Linked DNA regions of Homo sapiens: all the other regions are linked to region 1. Evidence: fine-mapped expression QTL. A gene starts in region 1. Each other region holds a variant in brackets. All regions are shown on one strand. Distances are from middle to middle.

Region 1 (2,621 bases):
CCCTGGCAAACTGCAGGAGACATTCAGTCCACGCCACATAAAAACTATTAAAGTGGGATCGCCGCAGTTGAAAAGCCCGATCAGTGCCTGGAGATTAGAACGCGAGCCTTTAAAGTACACACGCACCCGGCACCGGGAAAGCCCAGGCGCCTGTGACCCTCCGAAGGACTCTGGGTCAGCATCCTCGCGCCTGGACCATCTAGGGGGTCATCAGAAAGTAATACACGTCATAAGAAAGATGTGGGGGAGACCCCGATGCTCGCGCCTCTGCCAGGTGGAGGCGGGGTGCAGGTAGAAGCCGCGCGCTGGACTGCTGGATGAACTCCGTTACGCGCAGGCTCCGCGCCGACCCCGGAAGGGACAGGCAGGCTCGGAAGGGACCCTTGGGGCTTGGGGACGTCTTCTAGGGCAGAGAGCACCGCTGCGGTCCGAGCGGCCCGGGCCCTCAGGCGTGGGGCACCCGGCCTCCAAGCGCCCCCCGGGGACGCAGGCGCCCACGCACCGTCCAGCTGCGCGTCCTCAGTACCCAGCGCTCGGCGTCCCCGGCGGAGCCTCGCGCACTTTCCCGGAAAGTTTGGGGGTTCTCTCAACTCAGGCTCCCCCGGGAGCCCTGGGGCGGGGGTTGGAAGAAGGGGTCACTCACCTCGTCGCCCGGTCCGCCTCGGGTTCCCGAAGTGTCTGTCCCAGCCGCGGTTCAGTGCGTCCGTAATTAAGTATTTATTCTCGTTCCTTCCAGTGTCGAAGTTTCCCCTTCGCGCTGTGCCTCTGGTGAAAACAGGACATCCCCTTCGGCCACCCCACAACAAATAGCGTACACAAGCGGGGGAGAAGCGGGGCGGAGGGAGAAGCCGGCTCCGAGGGGGAGGAGGAAAGGAGAGGAGCCAAAACTCCGGACTGCGACAGGGGGGAAAGGAGAAGAAAAGAAAATGAGAGAGCGCGCCCAGCCGCCGCAGTCGTCACTCCCCGGCTTTTCCCGCAGCTCTTTCCCCCTCTCTAAGGCAGCGACAACTTCACGTGGACAGGATGGAAGTTTTGCGCGGAAGCCGGGAACGGCCGGAGCGTGCGCCGCGCTGCCGGCAGCCTCGCACTTGCGCAGGGAGGTGGGGCGGGGGCGACGTCGCCACCGGCTACTGCGGGCTCGTGAGGCCGCCGGGGGCCTCGGGGGAGGCCGCCAGGGACGCGGGGGGCGGCGGCGCGCGGGGGACCCACTCCGTTTTTATTTGACCTCGGGTGACTGCCTATTGTCATGGTTTGCGATCTCGCGTGGGGACCGCCCAGGGCCTCGGGGCCCTGGATGTCCCGGGTGGCGCCGCCGTAATCTCCGTGCCCTCCGCGCCGCCCCCACCCCGCCCCCACCCGGGCCGACTCGAGCGGCTGCAGCCTCCAGGCTGAGGGGAGGGACCCGCGACCGCGCTCTCCTCCCTGGGCCGGAGAGCCACTGTCGATCCCCACCTGCTTCTGTGGGGCAGCCCCCGGAATTGCCTGGAACTCTCTCGCTACCCAGTTCCCCTGTGCAGGCCACTGCGGGCCCCCTGCCGGACTCCTTTCCACTTACCCCAAGGGAGGAGACAGAAGGGACTTCGCCTACTTGCAACAACGTGAAATAAAAACCAACCCAGACCAGACTGGGGCGCTTTTTCTGACGGGAGGAAATACCCTTTTCCGTGGAGATATATGTTATGAAGGACTAAGCGGTCTGGGGATAGGCTGTGCTGCGAAGGGCCTGGGCCCCTTCCAGTGCTGCTGGGTGCAGGTATAGGCATCCGTCCCAGACGCCCAAAGGTCAGGCAGCAACGACTTACTTCCAAGGCGGCGTCAGAGCTTCTCTAGGCACATTGCTGAAATGACATTTCGTGTCTAAGCCTTCTGCGCATGCACTACGCGACTACATAGGATTTACGATTTTATACCCACACGTGTGTATGCCACAACCAGGGGACACAGCAAAGGTAGACGGAATAAACAATCCATAAATTTTGCATCCATTTAATCACCTCTTCCAAAAACCTATTGTCTATTTTAGCGGCACCTTCTCTGTCATATTGATAATAAATGTTTTAATTTATTGATAAATCACTGAGTGTCAATCATTGTATTGGTCACTTATGGTACATGAGTTCATTTAACTTCCATGACAACTCTACGGTGGTCATTATTAAGCCGGTATAAAAGATGAGGAAACCAAAGCCCAAAGAATCATGAGTGACTTTTCCAAAGACAAATCCAGTGGTCTCTAATCACAAAGCCTATGATACAACAACCTCTACATTACCTTAGGTGTGGTCTAAGAGATTACAGATTAATCCGTAGAAATTACTCCCATTCAAAGAAAGTTTAGTTTTAATATATTCACTAAGTTACGTTCTGAAAAAGGTTCAGAAAAAAGATTTCATCCTCTACTTTAGGTTGGTCTTATGCAACTGATATGAGCACTGTCTAATTCAAAAGCAGTATCAACCCTGAATACTTATGGTTACAATTTATTTTTTAATGAGTGGGGAATTATCTACAATGCTTAAGAGGCTCTAGAAAAGGTGGTGTTGTAAATTTAAAATGATAAAGGCAGTCGTTGCTGCTCTCATCACTTACTGGGTGTTCTTTCCTGCAGATTTATTTTGGAG
Region 2 (2,621 bases), 51 kb before region 1:
TACTTCATTATACTCAGACTGATCCTTAGTTTACTCTAATTACATCTATGAAATGACAGAGTTGGACTGTGTGATCTCTACTTGCTCTTCAAGCTTTAACATATAAACACTCTGCCAAAGGGTTGACATTCAGGAAAAGGACAAAAATATTTAAACAGACTTATTCAAATTTCTGGGGGTATAAATATGCATCTAGACATCTGAGACAAAAATATTGTTTAAAGATGCTTTAATGTTTTAAAAACATTAACACAAAAATTTTCCTTTTAGATCAACTCCTAAATTTGTTACTTTTCACAAACAAAGAGCAACCAGGGACTGAGAGTACATTTCTTCCCAATTTCCTTGTATAAATGTTGATACATTCAATGTGATGGAATCTAACAGCAAAGCAACTTCCCGTTTAAAATCCCAACATCAACATTCAATCCATGTTCATGTAATAAACACCCATATCCTAAGGCCTTCAATTAATTCCCTTAATGCTCAAGCTATTTGATATTAAGGGCTCAAGAATTAAAACAATGTACATATAATTCCAACAATTATGCAAGAATAAAACTAAGAAGAAAAATTACTCTGGCATTATGAAAATATTAAGCCTATTAAACCAGACGCAATTGGTGTAAAATTTACTCCTTTGAAGATTAGCAAATTGATTCAACATTCTAAAATAAGTATGCATAACCTGAAATTATCATGAGTGATTCCTGACTTACTTTTGCAGAGTAATTTTGTGCAACGGAATGTGTCTGCATCATCCAAAAATTAAGCAGATGCTATTACAGTAAGTTCCATATAAATGTCCAGTGGACAAGCACTCTGGAAAGGCCTCTTAACCACTGATAACAACTTACTTAACATAAACTTTTAAATACCTCTTAGGATTTTTCACAAAGATTTTCAGTCACAAATTATTGCCCTAGGATAGTATGCAAGTACTTTAATTTTGAAGGACTTTCAAAATCTAAAATATTAAGCAAACAAACGAAAAAAGGAAAAAAAAATCAGTCTAGCTGGGATCCCAGCCAATGAAAACTTTATTTCATGGAAAGAAAATAAGAAGTTCATAATCTCACAGTGAGGATG[G/A]AAACAATCACCCCAAACATGAATCAATGTGGATAATACTATGCAAATCACAGAAGAAAGGGGAAGCAGTCAGTCCTACAGAGAGTGAGCTGAGGTGACCACTTTTATAAGTGGCTAAAGGAAGAATCCTTGCATTGCTAGGAAGCTGGAGTTGGTAGCACCTTGGCACTATTTGCCTCTTTCATTTTATGAAAACGCTCCTAAAACTGAAGCTGCAAAGCCTTTTTATTTTGAACTTAGGAATCTTCAGCCTTACTTTCTTTAATATTAGCTTTATTACCACTTGTAACATCTACTCCATATTTTTCATTACTGAGCACCATAACGAAACTATGGCCTATATATGTAGTTAAGCAATATATAAAATCATGTTTATATCAATTTGCCAAAGATGTTTATTTAAAAAACACTGATTATATGCAGTAGTTATCAAATACATACATCTTATAAGATTTATGAAATAAACAGAAAATTCTTTGATGAAGGAGCTATTCAGACAAGAGTTAGCTAAAATAAGAAAATAAAGCTATAAAGATATCCCTAGGAATTTGGAAATAACTGTAAAATGCTTTTAAATCTTTGTTGAATAAATATTTTAACTTCCTGAATACAACTTAAGTCTATTGTTTAATTCCGGGTCAAAATGAAGTAACCCAAATATGCACTCTGTTACATAAAAGGCCCAGGGGATGAAATTACATCTCTCTCTAATAAGGTCCTTTGAAATCCTATACTACAGTAACTTAGCAGCCAAATTATTTTTCTTCTGTTAATGCTGATTGAGCAGTAAATAATAACTAGGAGAAAAACAAACATGCAAAATAAAGTTTTCACACCTTTGCTTGAGTTTTTTTAGATGACCCTGATCCACCAATTGTAGTAGAAACTCAAAAGCAATTATTTCATTAATCTTTATATATAGTAATAACTCACCACAGTTTTCAGGGAGGCTGGGGCTGATGTTAATTTCCAAATATTAAGAAACTTACACAAAAGTATGCTTTCAAATTTGTGTGAAGGTTGGAACGAATCAAAAAACCTCATTTCAAAACAAAGTGTTGTTGTTAATGTTCTCACTCTGCTTAAACCCTTTCAGTCTCCATTTTTGCATCTGTTAAACTAACGTAAAGGATTTGGACAGCATAATCTCTAAAGGTCCTACCACCTAGTAAACTAGTCCTGGAGCCCTCTGTATCAAGCATGGCAATACGAAAAGGAGATTAAGTGGGCAAGGCATTTAATTGAAACAAATGAGAGTGTGCTCTATTTAGAATCTCCCTAAAAACCCTGGTGTAGAAAAACCATTACAGACTCCAAATCTCACCTAACTCCTCCCCTTTTTTCTTCACATTAGCAGATTGAAAAATAAATATAGTCTAGGTTGTTGTCTACCCCTTTCACATCATGTCTGATACAACAGACTGTAAATCAAAGAAAATGTTAATAGGGGAAAATAAACCCATATCAAATTTTTTTCTTCTTATGTATGAACTGAAAACATTTCAAACTTTTTTGATGAAGGCACAAGTCAG
Region 3 (2,621 bases), 180 kb after region 1:
TAATTATTATAAACATATACACATATGGGCTTTACTCATTAATTGCGCAAACATTCACTGACTAAGCACAAACTACCAGGCACAGTGCTAGGCACTGAGGATATGAAGGTGACAATATCTGCCTACTGAAATGTGTGGTAGTCTCAACTACATCTCAAGCCATCAGTGGGTTGACTGTTAGAAATCAGTGGATTTCTCTTCTGGATCTTTAGATAATGTGTCTGATCAATCTATTTCTTTCTCCTGAGCAGGTACTCTCATGTATGACTTTCCCATTTTACCAGCTTAATAAATGGTTCTCAGCCTGAGCAAACTGAAGCAAACTATTGGGCATTCCCATTTTCATTTCTGAAGTGACTGCTCAAATCTTTATTTCATTTTATGCCGATGCCTCGGGAGCTGACCTAGGATAAATGGAAGCTACCAACTGCCAACTGTGCTGTCAGCTGTGTGGCCGGGTCAAAGGTGCTGGCTGAGCTTGCAAATTCTGAAGGTTTGCCAGCAGTGAAGGTATTTGCCTTAGAGGGAAATGATGCCTTGTACATATCTCATCCCACAGTGCTGCTGAATGCGTCCATTTCAGGCAATGCCCAATTTGGAGAAAAGAAGAAGTGCAAAAAAAGATGTTTCTTTGACCTCACCGCAAATACGTAAAACCACCTGCAGATCCACAGCCACTCTAATCTTTGCCTTGGGCACACCCTTTTGCTTTAACAGTAGAGAAGAAACAAGTTTCTGTTCCCTCCGAGTGCTGGGAAGTGGCATGACAGCTGGTTTCCATGAGCAGAGCACATACTCCAACCCTGCAAAGAAAAAACTCCCCACAATGCTCTTTTATCTATTAAACTAAAGGGGGTTTTATTACACTTTTGTACATTCAATACATTTATCTAAATTTTTCTCGCATTGAATTATTGTCAAGAAAAGGCTGTTCTTGCATATATATATGTGTGTGTATATATATATGTACTTGTGATCATGCATAACTTAAATGCTAAATTTCTGATTTTTTTGGAGAGGATAACATTTAGAAAAAAATCTATTGACTAAACAAAAATCATTTGACACATGAGGTCAAACCTTAATTTAGCTGTAGGAATCATTGTCGTATCAATGTGGAAGTAGAAATAGCACTAAAAGAATGTTCTTTTTCTCCTGAAAGATGCACCCTCTGACCCACTTTGTGACACATAGTGAGGAGTTCAGTAACTATAAATGTTACCGATGACTCTTATCCTTGGTTTAACTCTGGGTTCTTCTAAATGCTTA[T/C]GTAGAGTACAAATTATCTGCTGAAGAGTAGCCAAGGTTGCCAAGTGAACAGCACTGAAGACGTCAGAAGGGAGTGAAGTTTGGAAGTGAAACAGCAGCCTTTAAATAGCCCGACAACACACATCATGAGATGACTTCAGTGGATCTCCCATCACTACGGATTGGCTGTAAAGGAAAAATCCTCTTAAGTGTTTAATCCAGAAGATAACTTTTTATTCAATTACTACCAGTATAATTACTATACTATTGTTCAAGATTTTATTCGTTCTTCCTTTTTTTGTCCACTTTGTCTTTTCTTCCTCTAGAAATTCAGAACCTGAATGATTTCTCATTTGAGTCAATTTTGATCACTGCAATCATTAAATTAGACATAATTTAGAAACTTCTAATGAAAAAAGAACATAATTAAGCCAAATTATCAGAAGTTTTAAGGATTGAAAATATTATCAAACAATTTTTAATAGTATTTTTTCTAATAAAAATTCTGAGACATTGGATGAATTAAGATCTATTGATATGAAAGAATGCTCATGTAACTATGGAAAAGAAATTAACATTTAGTTAGTGTTCTAATATGCCAAGCATTATGCATATTAAACTAAGCATTTTCCATATTTTTTCTCATTTACTCTTTTTTACTGCCTTACAAAATATGTGTTATTGTCCCCAGTCTACAGGGCAGAAAACTGGAAATTCACAAAGATTAAAGTATTCAAGTTTAGAAAGAAACTGTTTTTAAGTGACAGAATCCGGATTAAAATCCAGGTCTGCTGACCCCGAGGCTCTTTCTCTTTCCATTTTATCCCATAGGATTTTCCACTCAGCCAAAAATTGAACTTTAAATTTTTACATATTTTTAAATTTAAATATATTTTTCCTCATTAACAACAAAAAAATGGAAAAGAAGAATTATAATTGGTAACATTGACATCAATTTTTAAAAATATTTGTTTCATGCAATAATAAAAATTGTTTTTCTTTTAATAGTAAATGATTTGAGTGAAAAAGTTATCACCATTGTAAATAAAACATAGCTTAATTGACTTTAATATTGCTAGCAAAATTAAATTTGTACTAGGCTCATAGAATAAATAAAAAGTGCATGCATATTTGCCACATTTAATATAGAATGTTTTTTGTAATTTTCAATCTTTTTTGAGTATACTTGCCAAAGCTGTATTTATTTAAGCTGTACAATGTGGTGATTTGACATAGGTATTCACTGTGAAATGATTGTCAAAGTCAAACTAATGTACATATCCAATCACCAATCACCTCACATAGTTATGATTTTTTGTGTGTGGTGAAAACACTTCAGATCAACTCTCTTAGCAAATTTTAAGTACATGATT
Region 4 (2,621 bases), 280 kb after region 1:
CCATTACTGCTGCAATGACATTGGCAACAACTTATCCCAAACCACTATATATAAGAGTTTGAGCAGGTTGAGCACCCCAAATCTGAAAATCCAAAATCTGAAACACTCCAAATCCAAAACTTTTGAGCACCTATAGGTTACTCAAAGGAAATATTCATTGAGGCATTTTAGATTCTGGATTTCTGAACTTGGGATGCTCAACTGATAAGTATAATGCAAATATTCCAAAATCTGAATAAAACTTGAAAGCTGAAACACTTCTGGTGCCAAGCATTTCAGATAAGGGACACTCAACCTGTATATATACTCTGTATGCATATAGAGTGTGTGTGTGTGTGTATATATATATATATATATATGTATATGTATATATATATATATATGTATATGTATATATATATATATGTATATGTATATATATATGCATATACATACAGAGTATATATATATGCATATACATACAGAGTGTATATATATATACTCATATATATACACACATATAGAAGTTTAAATATATGCTTTTACTATATATAAGATTTCATATATATGTATATATGTGTATGCAGAGTATATATATGTGTGTGTGTATATATATTATATATATATTCTGTACAAATACACACTAACACACATACACTTAGGAACTCACTTTTAAAGATGGACTCCCAAAATATATAAAATCATGCACATAAGATCCTCAACCATCACATAGAATATTTATTATGTATTTATTAAGACTATTCCACCTAGTGGCATATGCATTTAATGCTCTCATTCCACAAAATGAAGTGCAGTGTTGAGATAACCATGATGATGCAGACAGAAACCCACATGTGCCTTTCAGGTAATGACTTTCTCTTGCTTGGAAAACTACAAAGTAAATTTGAAACCATGGGCAACACGGTGGCAGTCACATGGATAAGATTAAAAAAAAAAGAAGAGGAAGAACAGAAACATCAGGAGCCTTTAAGCTGTTTTCTAAATTCAGAATCACCAGAATATTTATGTTGGCAGCATCCCTTAACTCTCAGCAGGAGATTTGACAGAATGTACTCTATACATAACCCGCACAAGCCCCAGATCAAGGGGAGAGTATTTGCATAAACAGAATCCTAGAGACCATGTCATCACTATCTTTCTCTTCCTGCTTCTTCCTTCTCTACCCTACAAG[C/G]AGGTTGTATTGAGTTTCCTGGGCTACCTTCCATGAACATCAAGGAATGCAACAGAGATGAATGTTACATCGACACCAGCAGTGCCACCACAAGAGAAACTGTTTGTACACTCTTTTCATTTCTCAGTGCAAGCAAGCATCTAAAGACTTTGCACCTGTTCTAGTTAGCTCTGGCAAATGCAGTCTGTATTTATATTAATAGAATGATGTTTTCATAACAAAATGGACATGTAGGGATTGTGGCATTTACTTTGGATGCTCTCATATGTGTGCAGATTGGGAGAGGGATGACTGTTACATAAAGTCCCATGGCAAGGGAAGAAGACCCACACATCCCACACTGAATCATCAGGGGACAGTTTGAGAACCTTTTGTGGAATGACCAGAAACTCAAGTATTAGAAATTAAATTAGATACTTGATAAAGAGGGAAATAAGCTGGATATAAATGGGCTTTTCATGGGTAGTTTGAAACTATGAACTCTTTCGTGTTCCATCTCCTGTTTCTGTAATTTGTGTCTTATCTCTCCAGAGCAGAGCTGAGAACTGGTGAGATCATTTTTGGCTCCATTCCTGAAAGTTTGTTTTGAGTCACCAGTGTAAATATTGCCCACCCAATCCGTACATTTGCACAAATTAACTGAAACCAGCTACCCAATTCCTTGTTCATATTTGGATCTGTTGATTAACCCTGACAGCTGTAACCTCATTAGTCCAAGCTCTGGCCATAGCTGAGCAGCTGTCAAATTAGGAGGAAGTGGACTCACTGAGGTTGCCTCTATGGACCAGGCATGTTAAAATCAATAGGCGCTCTAAAAGGTTTCAGTTATGATTCTAATTCTAATTTATGTTGTGCTGTGGGCTCTTCACCTAGATCTATAATATGGCCCCGAAATTGGTTGTTTTTGAAGAAAGCAGGGGCTCTCTCACAAAGCGGGAACATAGGTTTTACCTGGAAGACACTGGGTCTGCATAGGTTGGAAATGGGTTTTTAGCATGCATTGTAACACAGACATTTTAATATATTTTAAAATATTAGTTTCTAATGTATTTTTTGGCAAGAGTGATTCTGTTAGTTTTGACAAGAGGCCAACAGTGTCCTGATCAGAGGAATAAGAAAGATCCTGCGGCTGGTACTCACTAGAAAATGGAGATAAGTAGGTAGGAAAGAGTTAGAAAACACTCCTATAGGAATGAGGTTTTCCTAACTAGAACACAAAGTTCTTGGGGTGAATTCTGTTCATTTCTATATGAATCTGTAAGGAGGAATTGGGAAGTGAACATTCACAGTATCTACTAATTAAAACCTGGATGTTCAGGGAAGGAGATCATTTTCCATCTGCCAAAGTGTTGAAAAGGACCCTGGGATAGGGTCAAACGCAATGTGTGAATTTTCTTGGCAGCATTTTCATCATGGGGCGATAGCAGGTTGGAGCAGAAGATGGTCTAAG

What was found. PIP is the estimated chance that this variant, and not a neighbour inherited with it, causes the effect.
Region 2: its variant is fine-mapped to the expression of EYA4 in lung (TOPMed, PIP above 0.99).
Region 3: its variant is fine-mapped to the expression of EYA4 in left ventricle (GTEx, PIP above 0.99).
Region 4: its variant is fine-mapped to the expression of EYA4 in esophagus muscle (GTEx, PIP above 0.99).

Annotation. Positions count from the first base shown.
Region 1 is chr6:133,239,772-133,242,392 of GRCh38, reverse strand. It overlaps EYA4 (EYA transcriptional coactivator and phosphatase 4), which reads right to left and starts at 1,036. Exons shown (of 20, transcript NM_004100.5): 1 at 644-1,036. It overlaps LOC124901231 (serine/arginine repetitive matrix protein 1-like), which reads left to right. Exons shown (of 3, transcript XM_047419612.1): 2 at 1-174; 3 at 737-2,073. The coding sequence ends at 1,607. RefSeq lists an enhancer at 1-693.
Region 2 is chr6:133,290,323-133,292,943 of GRCh38, reverse strand. The region is part of intron 2 of EYA4 (EYA transcriptional coactivator and phosphatase 4); the gene reads right to left. Among named protein-coding and RNA genes, the nearest start is that of EYA4, 50 kb to the right of the region's middle. The variant G/A (reference allele first, on the strand shown) is at 1,090.
Region 3 is chr6:133,060,979-133,063,599 of GRCh38, reverse strand. No RefSeq gene overlaps it. Among named protein-coding and RNA genes, the nearest start is that of LINC00326, 26 kb to the left of the region's middle. The variant T/C (reference allele first, on the strand shown) is at 1,270.
Region 4 is chr6:132,963,479-132,966,099 of GRCh38, reverse strand. No RefSeq gene overlaps it. Among named protein-coding and RNA genes, the nearest start is that of LINC00326, 120 kb to the left of the region's middle. The variant C/G (reference allele first, on the strand shown) is at 1,172.